Homo sapiens: one gene and its partners. The protein of the gene in region 1 interacts with the protein of each later gene in a pairwise test. Each region holds a gene or a part of one and is shown on either strand. Other genes may lie near its edges.

Region 1 (3,935 bases):
ATGGCGGGCGCCCCTCCCCCAACCTCGCTGCCACCTCGCAGTTTGATCTGAGACTGCTGTGCTAGCAATCAGCGAGATTCCGTGGGCGTAGGACCCTCTGAGCCAGGTGTGGGATATAGTCTCCTGGTGCGCCGTTTTTTGAGCCGGTCTGAAAAGCGCAATATTCGGGTGGGAGTGACCCGATTTTCCAGGTGCGTCCGTCACCCCTTTCTTTGACTCGGAAAGGGAACTCCCTGACCCCTTGAGCTTCCCAGGTGAGGCAATGCCTCGCCCTGCTTCGGCTCGCGCACGGTGCGTGCACACACTGGCCTGCGCCCACTGTCTGGCACTCCCTAGTGAGATGAACCTGGTACCTCAGATGGAAATGCAGAAATCACCCGTCTTCTGCGTCGCTCATGCTGGGAGCTGTAGACCGGAGCTGTTCCTATTCGGCCATCTTGGCTCCTCCAACCTACTTTACTAATTTTTGAAGCCTTTCTTTGTTAAGTCCAACATTTATTCTTCCCTTGCTCAAAGACGCTATGTCTATTAAGTGTTGTTTTGAACCCTATGGGTAACTATTATTATTTGCATACTTTTTGTTGTTGAAAACTGGACATTTTAGATAATATATGGTAGCAATTTTAGATTCTGATTGCCTCATTTCCCAGGAGTGGTGGTTAGCAATACCAGTGGTTAGTATCTTGGAATACTGGAAGTCCTAACTCCCAGTACCTTGGAATGTGACTGTATTTGGAAATAGGGTCTTTTAACTGGCAATGAAGTTATAATAAGGTAATTAGAATGAGCCCTAATCTAATATGACTGGTGAGCTTAGAAGAGACTAGGACACAGACAAATAAAGAGAAGACCATGTGAAAACACAGGGAGAAGACAGCCAAGTGAAAGCCAAAGAGAGATGCCTCAGAAGAAACTAACCCTGCCAACACCTTGATCTTGAACTTCTAGCCTCTGGAATTGTAAGAAAATAAGTTTGTTGTTTAAGCTACAGTCTGTGGTGCTTTGTTATAGAAGCTCTAGGAAAGTATTAGACACCTTGAGCCAGTAAGACTTCTACCCTTTCCCAATGAATCAGTGTAGCTTGAGCAATATATTCAAAGTTGAGGTTGCCCCAGCTTTTACTTTATTTTTGCAAGGCCTCTTGTTCAACCAAGGGCTCACTAGGACCTTCTCCTGTCTCCTTAGTATGTGTATAGCTTTGCACATATTTATATTCTTCCAGACTACAGGGGAAAAGTAGGAAGTTATCAAGGTCCACTGTGGCTGTCCTGTTCTTCAAATTTCTCTGTTGAGTTTCTGGTTGGTTGCTAGTAAATTTTTTGCCCCAACAAGTATTGTGATCTTAGTCAGGCTAGGAGTGACCTTGGCCTTATCTGCTTGTTTGTCACTGGGATTACTGTTGTTTTAATAACGCTTTTGGTCTTGGAACTTTCTGAGCTCTGTTCCAAATAAAACTAGTCATCTCAAGCAATGAGGCTGCTGGGCCTCACAGTCTGACCCACCAAGGTAAACTTCTGCGTAACGGAATCTGAGGGTGGGGTAGTATATTAGTCTGTTTTCACACTGCTATAACAAACTTGTCAAGACTGGGTAATTTATAAAGGAAAGAGGTTTAATTGACTTACAGTTCCACATGGCTTGGGAGACCTCAGGAAACTTACAATGATGGCGTAAGGCAAAGGGGAAGCAAGGACCTTTTTCACATGGCAGCAGGAGAAAGAAGACTGAGTGAATGAGGAACTTGCTAAACACTTATAAAACTATCAGATCTCATGAGAACTCACTCACTATCATGAGAATAGCATGGGGAAAACTGCCCCCATGATCCAGTTTCCTCCCATCAGGTTCCTCCCTCAAAACCTGGGGATTACAATTCAAGATGAGATTTGGGTGGGGACACAAAGCCTAACCATATCAGGTGGGAAGAGTGGGAACAGTCCCAAGCTAACATGCCACAGACATGCACTGTTCTTACTGAGGTCCAGTAGATTTTCTTAAATAAACACTTCTCAAGTTCTTGTATGCTTGGTCAACTTCCTGAATCTTTAGAAGGTTGTTCATTGACAATTTTGTTCAGTTTTATAATTTCATTTTTAGGGAGAGTTACCATGTCCTCAATCAGCCATTCTGGAAATGCAACTCATTCCCTCTCTTCAGAAATCCTTTTACCATGTAGTCTTATAGTTGTTTCTGTATTTCAATCAGTTGTTGATCATAGTAGTCTTCCTTGACCATCCTACATAAAATAATCTTGCCTTATCTCCTTAGTTTGCTTTATTTTACTTCATAACATTTTTCAGTTCTTGACATTTTATAATTTTATGTGTTTGTTTATTGCCTTTCTCCCCCAGTGGAATGCAAACTCCCTAATGGAGAGGCCATTGTTTTGTTAATCATTGCATCCTTAGTGCCTATGACAATGCCTAGCAAATAGCATGCTCTCCGTAAATATTTGAGAAAGAATGAATGAATGTTAGATATGTAGTCTTTTAAGCTTGTGAGAAAATAATCATTCTCATAAACTTTTGTGAGTTGTTATAGCATTTTGGGATGTTGTTACACTTGATCCTGCAATGACATTTCTAGGAATCAAACACCTAAAGAATTAGTGGTCCTGTATGCAAAAATATTTATACTCAAATGTTCACTGCATCATTGTTTATAATTTAGAAAAAACTGGAAACCAAGCTACATATGCAGTAATTAGGGAATGCTAAATACTAAGAAAAACAATGAAGGCAATAAAAGGCATTATTTAGATATGTTTTGTAATGGAAAGATATTTCTAATCATTGCAAAAAATGAATGTGACAAAATAATGTGAATATAATACATACAATTAGTAAAGAGAATGTGTGTGTATTCGTCTTTTTTTGTATAGAATTGGATGTGTGGATACGATGAGAACTATATTAAAGAAAAATCACTTTTTACTCTATATGCTTTTTGCTTTTAAATGTAGTTTCATGTATTACTGTTATAATTTTATGCTATTTATAAAATAACAAAAATAAAAAATAAAGGCAATATCACACATTCCATTTATATTAGTTCTAAATATTTTGTATCAGTGCACTTCATCTTCTCATAGAGTGTAGTTACTAGAAATCAACATCTTTTGATTTGCCAGAGAGTGGGTAAACACTTACCAAATTGGAACAGCTGTATATTGAGTGTGTAAGTGCAATAGAAAATTCCAAACCGTAGAAGAACAGTAAAATACGTGATACTTCCCTCCCAAGTTTCTATAACCAAAAAACAGGGAGAAATCTTAATGCTATTATCTTTAGTGAGTGCAAACATGATCATGGAAGGAGCTACTGGTATGAGAGTCAAAAAAAAAAAAAAAAAAAAGGAAGGAAAATAAGAACAGATAAACCTTTCACCATTTGATTTCCTTAGACATTTCTACTCCTTTGCCCTCTGCTACACTTTCCCTAGCTTTCAGTTCCTCAATTCAGCATCTGTGGCTTCTGCATTTGATCTCCATTGCTTAGCATTCTTGTCTCACTTCTGACAGCTTTTACAGAGTCGCTGGCACAGCTCACTATCTAAACTCTCCAGTTAGTAAGATTTGACTTTCCTGTCTCTAATGATAAGATGGCCACCAACAGATTTATCAAGCAATCCTTTTCTATTAAAACAGCTATTATTAATCACAACCCTTCTTAAATTTACATACATGGTGATAAAACTCTCACATATATATTGCTCTAATATCATTTAAAATGATTAATACATTCAAAAAGAGTTCAAAGAACATTTAACTTGGAAGCATAAGGTGATTGTGACTGCTGGGATAAATAAAACAGATTCCCTTCTGTTGCTATCAGAAAGATATTTTCAACTACAAATCCGATTGGTTAGTTATGTGAATAATATTGGTACTCATCCTGAAAATGTGGGTTTTGTGCTGGCTGTGGAAAGACAAGAAT
Region 2 (3,500 bases), 1.2 Mb from region 1:
TTGAACCCACGCTGTCTGGCTCCAAAGTCTGGTCTCTGAGCTGCCACACTGCTGCCCGTGCAGCTGGGGCTTTCCAGGCTGCCCCCATGAGGCCAGCAGATCTCCTTCTCAGCCACCACTCCATACCCCTCCCCTCCAGTCTCAGCCCCTGAGGGGCCTGAGCTGGATGCAGACCAGCTGCTGGGCCCTTCCTCTCTCCTCCATCAGGTTCCAGAGGCCTCTTGCTGGGAAATAGTTTCCATGAAGTGAACACGCTCTCATCTAATTTTTGCACAGTCCTATGACATAAATGTTGTCACTCCCATTTTACAGATGAGGAAATGGAGGCTCAGAGAGATTAGGAAACTTGCCTAAGATGTGTCTGATTCCACAGTTCAGACATGATTCTGAGATCCTGATAGAATGAGGAAATGGGCCAGGCGCGGTGGCTCATGCCTGTAATCCCAGCACTTTGGGAGGCCGAGGCGGGTGGACCACTTGAGGTCAGGAGTTCAAGACCAGCCTGGCCAACATGACGAAACCCCGTCTCTACTAAAAATACAAAAATTAGCTGGGCCTGGTGGTGGGTGCGTGTAATCCCATCTACCCTAGGGACTGAAGCAGGAGAATCTCTTGAACCCAGGAGGCAGAGGTTGCAGTGAGTCAAGATCACACCATTGCACTCCAGCCTGGACAACAAGAGCAAAACTCCATCAGGGATGCCCCGGGGACTTGAGAGCACAGAAGCTAGGAGAGGTGGTGGGCACATTGCAAGCGGTCATTCAGGGGCCAACAGGACCAAATGGTGACAGGACGGGCTTGGGGCCTGGGAGGCGGGGGGTGGGGGGTCTGCTAATGGCCCGCTGCCTCTGCCTTTGCTACTGAGCTGGCTGAAAGCCCAGCGATAGGAAAGGCCAGGCCGGGGTTCTAGGCCCTTCCCTGGCATGCAAGTGGCAGCCATCCTTCAGCCAGGCCTGCTCTCCTTGCAGCCATCCTGGTGATCGAGTTCATCTACGCCATCGTGGGCATCGTCTGGCTCACTCAGTACTACACCTCCTGCAACGACCTCACTGCCAAGAATGTCACCCTCGGTACGTCTGGGTGAGGCCTGCTGGAGCCTCAGCAGCCCCGGGGGCACAGGGGACGAGATCAGTTTAGAGAGGAAGAAGCTTGGGCATTGCCAGAGGGCAGTGCCTTCTGTGGGGGCACCAGCAGGTTGGCTGGGCGAGACTGCTTCCCTCACCCTTGAGGCCTGCCAGCTACCTGGTCTGGGGTGGGCTGCAGCAGGCACAGAGCTGCTCAGGTCAAGCCGAGGCTCCTCAGCACCTCCTTGGAAACCCACAGAGCTGCCTGCTCTGAGCCAAGAGTGGCCCTTGGGGTTGTGGGTGGGCAATAGGGTGGCCACGTATGTGGCCAGAGACTGGGACCAGGGGCTTTGGAGCCTGGCTTTTGTCCCCAGAAGCATTTGGGGTTAGGGAGGCTCCAATGTCCCTTTCTTCAGAGCGGGTGAGCCAGAGAGGTGTCCCCAGCGCCCCTACCTAATGCCTCCCACTGCTGCCCGCAGGAATGGTTGTCTGCAACTGGGTAGTCATCCTCAGTGTGTGCATCACTGTCCTCTGCGTCTTCGACCCCACGGGCCGCACCTTTGTCAAGCTGAGAGCCACCAAGAGGAGGCAGCGTAACCTGCGGACCTACAACCTGCGGTCAGTCAGCGGGCTGGGTGGGCAGTCCCAGGGTGGGCTTTGCTGTCTGGTGAGCAGAGGTCTCCATTCTTCAGAAGGCTACCCCAGGCCTCCCAGACTGCATGCCAACCTCGTGTGAGCCGTGGGCATTAGTCAAAGGGCTTAACTGCTCCCTGCCTCAGTTTCCTTGTCTATAAAGTGGGAATAATAACAATTCTTGTCTCATGTTGTTGTGAGATTTAACTGAGCTAATACCTGCAGAGTGACTAACACAGTGCTCACACTGGGTAAGTGCTCGGTTAATAGTAGTTGTTGTCATCATTGTCCACTGCTGATAATAACAATGGTAATAACAGTGAAGCCAAGCATTGCGTGTAGTAAGTTACAAGTCCACCACACAGCTGTCAACTTCCCCATAATATGGGTGGAGAAACTGAGGTACAGAGAGATGATGGGACTTGCCTGAGGTTACACAGCTAGAAAATGGTAAGGCTGGGAACTAGCCCAGGCAGTCTGGCCTTAGAGTCCTCGCTTAACTAGCTATTAAATTAGGCTAGGCTGCCTCTAGGATTCAGAGATTGGGAGAGGCAAGTCAAGGAAAGCTTCCTAGAGGGGGTGAGTTTTGCATGATGTTTTAAAGATGGGGGAAAGTGTGCCATGGCAGACAAAATGAGGGAGGGCATCCAGGTAGTGTCACAATAATTTGTTTGTTGAAAGAAAAAGAGAGGGGCTTCCAGGGTGGGTCCCAGTACCTCCTGTTAATGGGGCTTCTACAGTGCATTATGTAAGGAGCTCCCCATGCCAAGCCCTTTACGCAATTCATCCATTTAATCCCTTTGTGAACCCCGGCATGGTTGTGAGATCCATTCTACAGATGAGGAATCCAAGTCCCAGAGAGGGCAGGTCACCTGCCGTGGGTCTTGCTGCTGGGGTGCAGAACTGGCACCACACCTGCAGCCCAGAGCAGCTGGCTCAAGCACCTGGGGAGCAGGCTGTCTGGACCCCCGCTGCCCGGCAGGAATTCTCACCGTCCCACCCTCCTGCACTGCTGTGTTCGGCTCCCCGTGGACCTTCCACGTCAGCTCAGCACTGCAGCCAGAGCCACACCCGTGCCTGCTGTGGCCACGTCCCAGCCCAAAATGTCAGGTCTGGGAGCCAAGGCCCCAAAGCCCATATTCCCTCCCAGCCCAGCTGGCCACCACCACCCATCCCACAGTGCTCTGGGAACCCTGCTTGGCCAGCACACTGTCCCTTCATGCCCCAGAAGGTGGGACATTGGTTTAGGATGTACAGCTGTCCAAGTCCCTAAGAGCCAGCAGGTCCCCAGAGTAGCAATTCCCTGCACCCTTCCCTACCTGCCTCCCGTAGCCCTGGAAGACCCTGTTGCCCTCCTTCTCCTTGTGGCCATTTGCCTTATGAAGCCAGGGTTGGAGAGCGGGAAGCGGTCCTTAGACACACGGAGGAGCCAAGAGGCTCAAAAAGGGCCTGGCCTGTCACTACAGATTGATGTTAAGTGCCTTGAATGCATATGAGGGCCACCCTTGCCTTCCTCTCCTGACCACCCAGCATCAGGCTTTTAAGGGGCCGCACATGGCACAAAAGCAAGCTAGCCCCTTCTTGCTCGGTTTGGAGGTCTGCACTTTTAATGTTGGATCTGTTATCTTTATGCTCAACACACTGACTGCAGACATCCAGCCTAGGAGGAACCTCTGTGAATAACTGGCCCATTGCTCTGCCTTTGGGTACAGACTCCTGGAGACCCTGATTCTCCATCTGAGCAGCCAGACCCACTGGGGATGGGGTTGGGGGGTGAGAATAGACAAGGGCAACCATGTGGGT
Region 3 (3,500 bases), on another chromosome or scaffold:
GACCGCTAGGAATTTACTACAGATTTCCTTGCTGAGTGAGCCAGGCTGCGTGCACAAGTTCATTGCTACATTATTAGTTATGCTGAAAATGGAAACAACATGTCTACCAACAGGGGACTGCTTCAATAAATTTAGTGGGAGCCATGTGATAAAACTCTAAGCAGAATGAGGCAGGGGAGACAGAGAGATGTCCAAGCTGTGCTCAGTGGGAAAAGCATTGTCATATGATGCTGCGTCTGCTGTATTTGCAGGGAATATAACTAGGACCATAACACAAAAACCGGCACACAGGGATGATCTCTTCAGAGGGGGTCTTGGTACAAGGGGAGGAGGAGATTCGAATATTTTTTAAACTTGTACTTTTTTTGGTAGTTTAATAAGTTTAAAATTGAAAAACATTGTACAAGGATTCACGTTTTTCTAGTTCTCACCCCGGGTGTTTCTCCTGTGACTTGTGTGGTGAGATCAAGGGGTTCTAGAGGCCCCATCCCAGAGCTAAGGAGTCTCTGGGATGAGTTGGGGCTTTTTATCTATTATGATAAAACATATATAATGTAAAATTTGCCATTTCAACCATTTTAAGCCTACAGTTTGGTGGCATTAATTACATTCACAATGTGCAACCGTCACCACTGTCTATTTTCAAAACTTTCATCACTTAGGCTTCTTTTGACCTTGAGCTCTGTGGCATGGGGTCTGCGAAGGCCCTGCTCTCCCTTTTCAGAGAACAACCTGTAGCCAAGGGTGTTCCAGCTGTACCTTGTGGGCTGGGATGAGGACTCTGTTCCCTCTCTTGCCTGGAGCTGCCTGAGCTGTAGGTGACAGGTCTTGTTTCTGAGTGCTCCAGGGGCATAGGGCGGCAGGCACAGGGCTCTCTTTGAAAGGAGAACCGCCTTATCTTCCATGCCTCTGTAGGTTGCTGGGGGTCTAGCTGTGGGACTCTGGGGAAAGGCGGGTCTCCTGCTTCCTGGCCTTCCCTCTCTGAGCCTCAGTTTATGCTCAGGAGGAGCAATGGGAATGGGGCTTCACCTTGGCTACCTCTCTGCCCTTTCAGACATCACGGCTGCAGCCCTGGCTACGGGTGCCTGCATCGTAGGAATCCTCTGCCTCCCCCTCATCCTGCTCCTGGTCTACAAGCAAAGGCAGGCAGCCTCCAACCGCCGTGAGTATTCCTCCCTGCCTGGGGTGGGTGGACGGTGCGAGTGACCTGCTCCAGCCCCCAGTTCAGCCCCTGGGATTCGCAAAGGCACGATGCAGGCACAATTCCTTTTCATTTGAGAGTTGGGAGCAGCTGCACTTCCCGCCAGGAGCTGGGCGAAATGGCCGAGAGAAAGGAGGCATGCCATTTCCGGGGGCCAAGTGCCCACCAGCCCCTTTGGCTCCCAGGCAGTGCTGGCTCGGCACTCAATACATGTCTTCTGAATGAATGATCATATGCAGTAGCTCAAGTTGCTTTATAAAAGCAAGTTGCTGCCACTCAGAGATCCTTGGGGGACCTGTTTAAGGTATGGGCGTGCTTGTTTTGTAATTAGTAGCAATTGTTGGGACAAAAAATGATCTTTGGAATATCAGAAGTGGAAGGGGTCTTACAGACAACTTAGCTCAACCCTTTCTTTTTCCAGATGAGAAGGCTAAGATCAGTGGGGTTACATAACTGACTGAATGTTACGTAACTTAGTAAGTGGCAGAGCTAGGACTCAATCTCAGAGCTTTCAACGCATGCTCTTTCCAGGGAATAGAAGTCCACCATATAATAAAAATGCTCTCACTTACTCCTCATTGCAAGTCCAAGAATTTGGTCCTACCATTGTCCCCATTTTACTGATGGGCAAACGGAGGCACAGAGGGGTTAAGTAACTTGCCTAAGGAACCACACAGCAAATAAGTGGTGGGGCTGGGCTTTAAGTCATGGGCACAAACATCTTTCACCTCCCACCCTGGCCAGGTGACAGTGCCCCTTGCCTAGTTCCTGACCCTGCCCTTGAGTCTTGGTTAGTCTGAGTCCTCCAAGAAGGGGCTAGGGAGTTTTTTACCCTTGCCTCCCCTCCCTGGCCTCTTCCCGTCTGCCTGGCTACAGAGGTAACTGAGAAAGGATTGCTCTGGTGCCAGGTGGCTTTTGGCTCGCAACTTATTTCCTGTGGCCGGCCCTTAACAACTTGTCATCCCTCCCTCCCCTCATTCCCGGGGGCCCCCACGTGAAGCCCCATAGTGGGTCACTCGGGGGCTGTGGCCACCTCACCCTTGCTTTCAGAACTCCCCTATTCCTCTCCTAGAACACACCACAACCTACCTGCAGGAATACCCATGGCTGGGGGTGGGTGGGGGCAGGTAAAGGGCTTGGAACAGAAGAGCAACGCTGGGCAGCAGGGCAGGGGGAGCAGGTGTTGCTGTGCCCTCCCTGGTGGAAGGCTGGCCCAGAGAGCCTGCTCAGGAATGAGGCACTCTCAGGAAAAAAAGAAAAGGAAAGGGCTGGGAGCCTTGAGGACGGCAGTTTGCTGGAGAGGCCAACAGGTGTGGATTTCCATCCTGCTTTGGACTGAGCCTCAGTTTCCCCAGCTCTAAAATGGGACCAACAACCCTCACCCCAAAGGGTGGCACAGAGGATGAGATGAGGGAATACCCGTGTGCACCTGCACGAAGCCTGACCCATGAGTCGGCTGTAAGCAATAGCCATGGTTTGAATAGATTTCAGGAACTTTTGGGTAACTTCCCTGTGTTTGTTCTGTTGTTGTGCCCCTCCCCCACCATCTGTTTCCCCATCGTAATCAGCAGTAAATCTCCTTAAAACGAGAAGCATCTGTGGGAGGACATGGGGTGCTGCATGAAAGAGGGAAGTTGGGGTCACTGCATCTAATTGGTGGCCAGTTTGGGGGGTGGGGTGTCCCAAGGCTGAGGCAAGCGGCAGCAACTTGGATGAGAAGCAGAAAGTGAGTGAAGTGGCTGGGAAGTGATCGGGGACTTGCACCTTGTAAGGTTTCCCTGAGAGATGTCCCCTAGAATGCCACCCTATTAGGCAATGTAGGGGATAGGACAGAGAGGACCAGGAGCCCTCTAATTAGGAACTGACCTTAAACACTCCCACCCAGTAAGTCATGGCTAAAGACCAGAACCTGGCAAATGTTCAAACAAGAGACACCAGTTAGCAAATTCAAGAGTTGACCTTTGCTCGATACTTAAATCCTGAAGGTCTGACACTGTGTAAGTCAAGCCATAGGAGAAAGCGCTGGCTGCCTTTGGTCTCCTGATGGCAGATAGCGTTCTTACACTCCTGGAAAATGCAGATAGAGTTTCATTTATCAGTCGTCAAAATGGGCCCCTCATGGAGGCCCCATCTGCTGGACAGACACGCAGATCGCTTGCTGGACAGCACCCATGTGAAAAGAAATGGAGTCCGGAGCTGTGCAGGGCCCTCCTGGGCTCGCTCCTGTTCCCTGCAGGGCATCTGCCAGCAGGGGCAGGGATGTTGTATGGGGAAGCCTTCCCTTCCATGACCAGCTTCT
Region 4 (3,500 bases), on another chromosome or scaffold:
AGCTGGGACTACAGATGCCCGCCACCACGCCCAGCTACTTTTTGTATTTTTAGAAGAAATGGGGTTTCATCATGTTGGCCAGGCGGATCTCGAACTCCTGACCTCAAGTGATTCGCCCTCCTCGGCCTCCCAAAGTGCTGGGATTACAGGCAGGAGCCACTGCACCTGGCACTGGCTGGGATTTTTATGCTATGTTACTGCGTTTGAGCCTCAGCAGCCCCGGGAGGAAGAAGCAGTAACTCATCTTGGAGAAGGGAAGGACACCTAAGGCCCAAAGAGGGTCACTGGTTTCCCTGGGGCCACACACTAATCTAAAAAGAGTGAGCACTTCCTAATTCCTACTACCCCTCCCTGTCCACCCCAGCAGGTCCTGCCAAACCCCGACTCTGACGACTTCCTCAGCTCCATCCTGGGCTCTGGAGACTCACTGCCCAGCTCCCCACTCTGGTCCCCCGAAGGCAGTGATAGTGGCATCTCCGAAGACCTCCCCTCCGACCCCCAGGACACCCCTCCACGCAGCGGACCAGCCACCTCCCCCGCCGGCTGCCATCCTGCCCAGCCTGGCAAGGGGCCCTGCCTCTCCTATCATCCTGGCAACTCTTGCTCCACCACAACCCCAGGGCCAGTGATCCAAGTACCTGAAGCCTCTGTGACCATAGACCTGGGTGAGTCCTGCTGTGTCTCTGCCCACCGCCCTCACCTTGTTCCAGGGCCCTTCCTGTAAGTGAGGAAATGGAGGCCCAGAGAGGGCTGGCATCTTGTCCAAGGTCACACAGCAATTTGGAGCTGGGCCCAGACTCAAACTCAGGACACGTGTCTCCCTTGGCTAGGTGTTTCCATGCTTTCACGTGGATGCTATTGGGAGCCCATTTTCCAGATCGTGAAACAGTCCTGTCAGGTTGAGCAATGAGCTAAAACCACAGAGCTAGGATGCAACCCCGGCAGGTGGCTCAGGCACCAGGCATGGTGCTGACAAGCACAGCCCAAAGTCAGGGTCTTGCCTTCTACGTGTCTGTACCCCGTGCCTGGTTCCTAGTAGATTTTTTTTTATTTTTTATTTATTTTTATTTTTTGAGACAGAGTTTCACTCTGTCACCCAGGCTGGAGTAAAGTGGCGCGATCTCGGCTCACTGCAACCTCTGCCTTCCAGGTTCAAGCAATTCACCTGCCTCAGCCTCCTGAGTAGCTGGGATCACAAGCATATGCCACCATGCCCAGCTAATATTTATTTTTTAGTAGAGACGAGGTTTCACCATGTTGGCCAGGCTGGTCTTGAACTCCTGAGCTCAGGTGATCTGCCCACCTCAGCCTCCCAAAGTGCTGAGATTACAGGTGTGAGCCGCTCCACCCAGCCTGTAGATGCTCAATAAAAGTGCATGAGGTTACCAGGTCCTAGGTTCCAGGGTGCTCCTCCTAGACGTGGGGAACAGCAGATCAGTAATGATTTACTCTATTGATTAAGCATTCCCGGCGGGCCAGGCAGAGCCCTGGCTGGAGATACTTGGCCTCTGGGTGGCCTTTGTCCCTTGACCCTTGCTATGAGCTCTTCTTGGTCCCATTGGAGAGTTGACAAAACTGAGGCTCAGGCCCGGAGCGGTGACTCATGCCTGTAATCCCAGCACTTTGGGAGGCTGAGGCAGGCGGATCACTTGAGGTTAGGACTTCAAGACCAGCCTGGCCAACATGGTGAAACCCCATCTCTACTAAAAATACAAAATTAGCCGGGCATGGTGGGGGCCACCTGTAGTCCCAGCTACTCAGGAGCCTGAGGCAGGAGAATCACCTGAACCCGGGAGGCGGAGGTTGCAGTGAGCTGAGATCATGCCACTGCACTCCATCCTGGCTGACAGAGCCAGACTCTGTCTCGAAAAAAAGCCAAAAACAAAAAATGCTGGGCACAGTGGTTCACGCCTGTAATCCCAGCACTTTGGGAGGCCGAAGCGAGCGGATCACGAGGTCAAGAGATCGAGACCATCCTGGCCAACATGGTGAAACCTCTGTCTCTACTAAAAATACAAAAATTAGCTGGGTGTGGTGGCAGGCGCCTGTAGTCTCAGCTACTCGGGAGGCTAAGGCAGGAGAATCTCTTGAACCTGGGAGGTGGAGGTTGCGGTGAGCCAAGATTGCCACACTGCTCTCCAGCCTGGCGACAGAGCGAGACTCCGTCTCAAAAAAAAAAAAAAAAAAAAATCTGAGGCTCAGAGAGGTGAAGTCACTTACTCAAGGTCACACAGCCCTGCCCAACCAGGATTAGAACCAAGGGTTACCTGACCCAAAGTTTGTGTGCTGGGACAGCATGCCTACTGCATGCCGGCTACCAGGAGGGGACAACCAGAGGTGAATCAGACCTCGTCCCTGCCCCTTGGGTGAGATAACGCCTGGCTGGCTGCAAATCTAGCCTGTAATTCTGTGTGATAACAGCCACTCCCTTTTGAATCAGCCGGTGTCTCCTGACAATGTCCTGTGTCTTCCTCAGCCTTGTGGGACGGACAGAACCAAGCCCTGTTGAATTTGGGTCCCCATCTTTTTTTTTTTTTTGAGATGGAGTCTCGCTGTGTCACCCAGGCTGGAGGGCAGTGCCACATTCTCAGCTCACTGTAACGTCCACCACCCGGGTTCAAGTGATTCTCCTGCCTCAGCCTCCCGAGCAGCTGGGATTACAGGTGCACGCCACCAGGCCCGGCTAATTTTTGTATTTTTAATAGAGATGGGATTTCACCATGTTGGCCAGGCTGGTCTTGAACTCCTAACCTCAGATGATCCGCCTGCCTTGGCCTCCCAAAGTGCTGGGAATACAGGCGTGAGCCACCATGACTGGCTGGGTTCCCATCTTATAGCAGAGGGGAGACCGAGTCACTAGTGAGGGCTGCCCCCTTCAACTCAGGCCTTGGGGACTCCAAACTCTGGCAGAAGTCATATGAATGTTGGGATTAATCATGGGAGACTTGGTGGAGGAGGCGGTTAGAGGCTGGAAGCTCAGGACTCCCCCCGTCTGACACTCTCCCTGTCTCCGTCCCCACCTGCCCTGGTCAGAAATGTGGAGCCCAGGAGGAAGGATCTGTGCTGAGAAGCCGGCTGATCCGGTGGACCTGTCCCCACGATGCAATCTCACCGTGAAAGACCTCCTCCTTTCGGGCAGCAGTGGGGACCTGGTGAGCACCCCCACACCCTCCCATGGGGCGTTGGAGCTGGGAGGGCTGCTCGGGTTCGAGGAGCCTAAATATCCCCGTTTCAGAGACTGGAAAACTGAGTCACAGAAAGGCGTGGAATTTGCCCACAGTTAGAGACCATTCCAGTCCTGGGCTCACTGTCGCCTGGGCTGGGGTGTCTTCCTCTGTAGTACTTAGTAGTAACAATAGCAACAACAACTAAAAGCTAAAACTGGCTGAGTGTGGTGGTTCACACCTGTAATCCCAGCACTTTGGGAGGCCAAGGCAGGCAGATCGCTTGAGCTCAGGAGTTTGAGACCAGCCTGGGCAACATGGTGAAACCCCATCTAT

Evidence for each region. Proteins that work in one complex are often made in the same cells at the same time.
Region 2: the proteins of MS4A13 (region 1) and DAGLA interact in binary tests that used the Homo sapiens proteins (3 or more experiments, as listed by UniProt).
Region 3: the proteins of MS4A13 (region 1) and VSIR interact in binary tests that used the Homo sapiens proteins (3 or more experiments, as listed by UniProt).
Region 4: the proteins of MS4A13 (region 1) and CREB3L3 interact in binary tests that used the Homo sapiens proteins (3 or more experiments, as listed by UniProt).

What each region holds. Positions count from the first base shown.
Region 1 is NC_000011.10:60,528,675-60,532,609, reverse strand, and holds part of MS4A13 (membrane-spanning 4-domains subfamily A member 13), read right to left. Parts: intron 3,246-3,935; coding exon 3,150-3,245; intron 1-3,149. UniProt on the Homo sapiens protein: May be involved in signal transduction as a component of a multimeric receptor complex.
Region 2 is NC_000011.10:61,721,891-61,725,390, forward strand, and holds part of DAGLA (diacylglycerol lipase-alpha), read left to right. Parts: intron 1-968; coding exon 969-1,070; intron 1,071-1,543; coding exon 1,544-1,682; intron 1,683-3,500. UniProt on the Homo sapiens protein: Serine hydrolase that hydrolyzes arachidonic acid-esterified diacylglycerols (DAGs) to produce the principal endocannabinoid, 2-arachidonoylglycerol (2-AG).
Region 3 is NC_000010.11:71,753,021-71,756,520, reverse strand, and holds part of VSIR (V-type immunoglobulin domain-containing suppressor of T-cell activation precursor), read left to right. Parts: intron 1-1,054; coding exon 1,055-1,162; intron 1,163-3,500.
Region 4 is NC_000019.10:4,156,631-4,160,130, forward strand, and holds part of CREB3L3 (cyclic AMP-responsive element-binding protein 3-like protein 3), read left to right. Parts: intron 1-364; coding exon 365-665; intron 666-3,033; coding exon 3,034-3,152; intron 3,153-3,500. UniProt on the Homo sapiens protein: Transcription factor that may act during endoplasmic reticulum stress by activating unfolded protein response target genes. Activated in response to cAMP stimulation. In vitro, binds to the cAMP response element (CRE) and box-B element.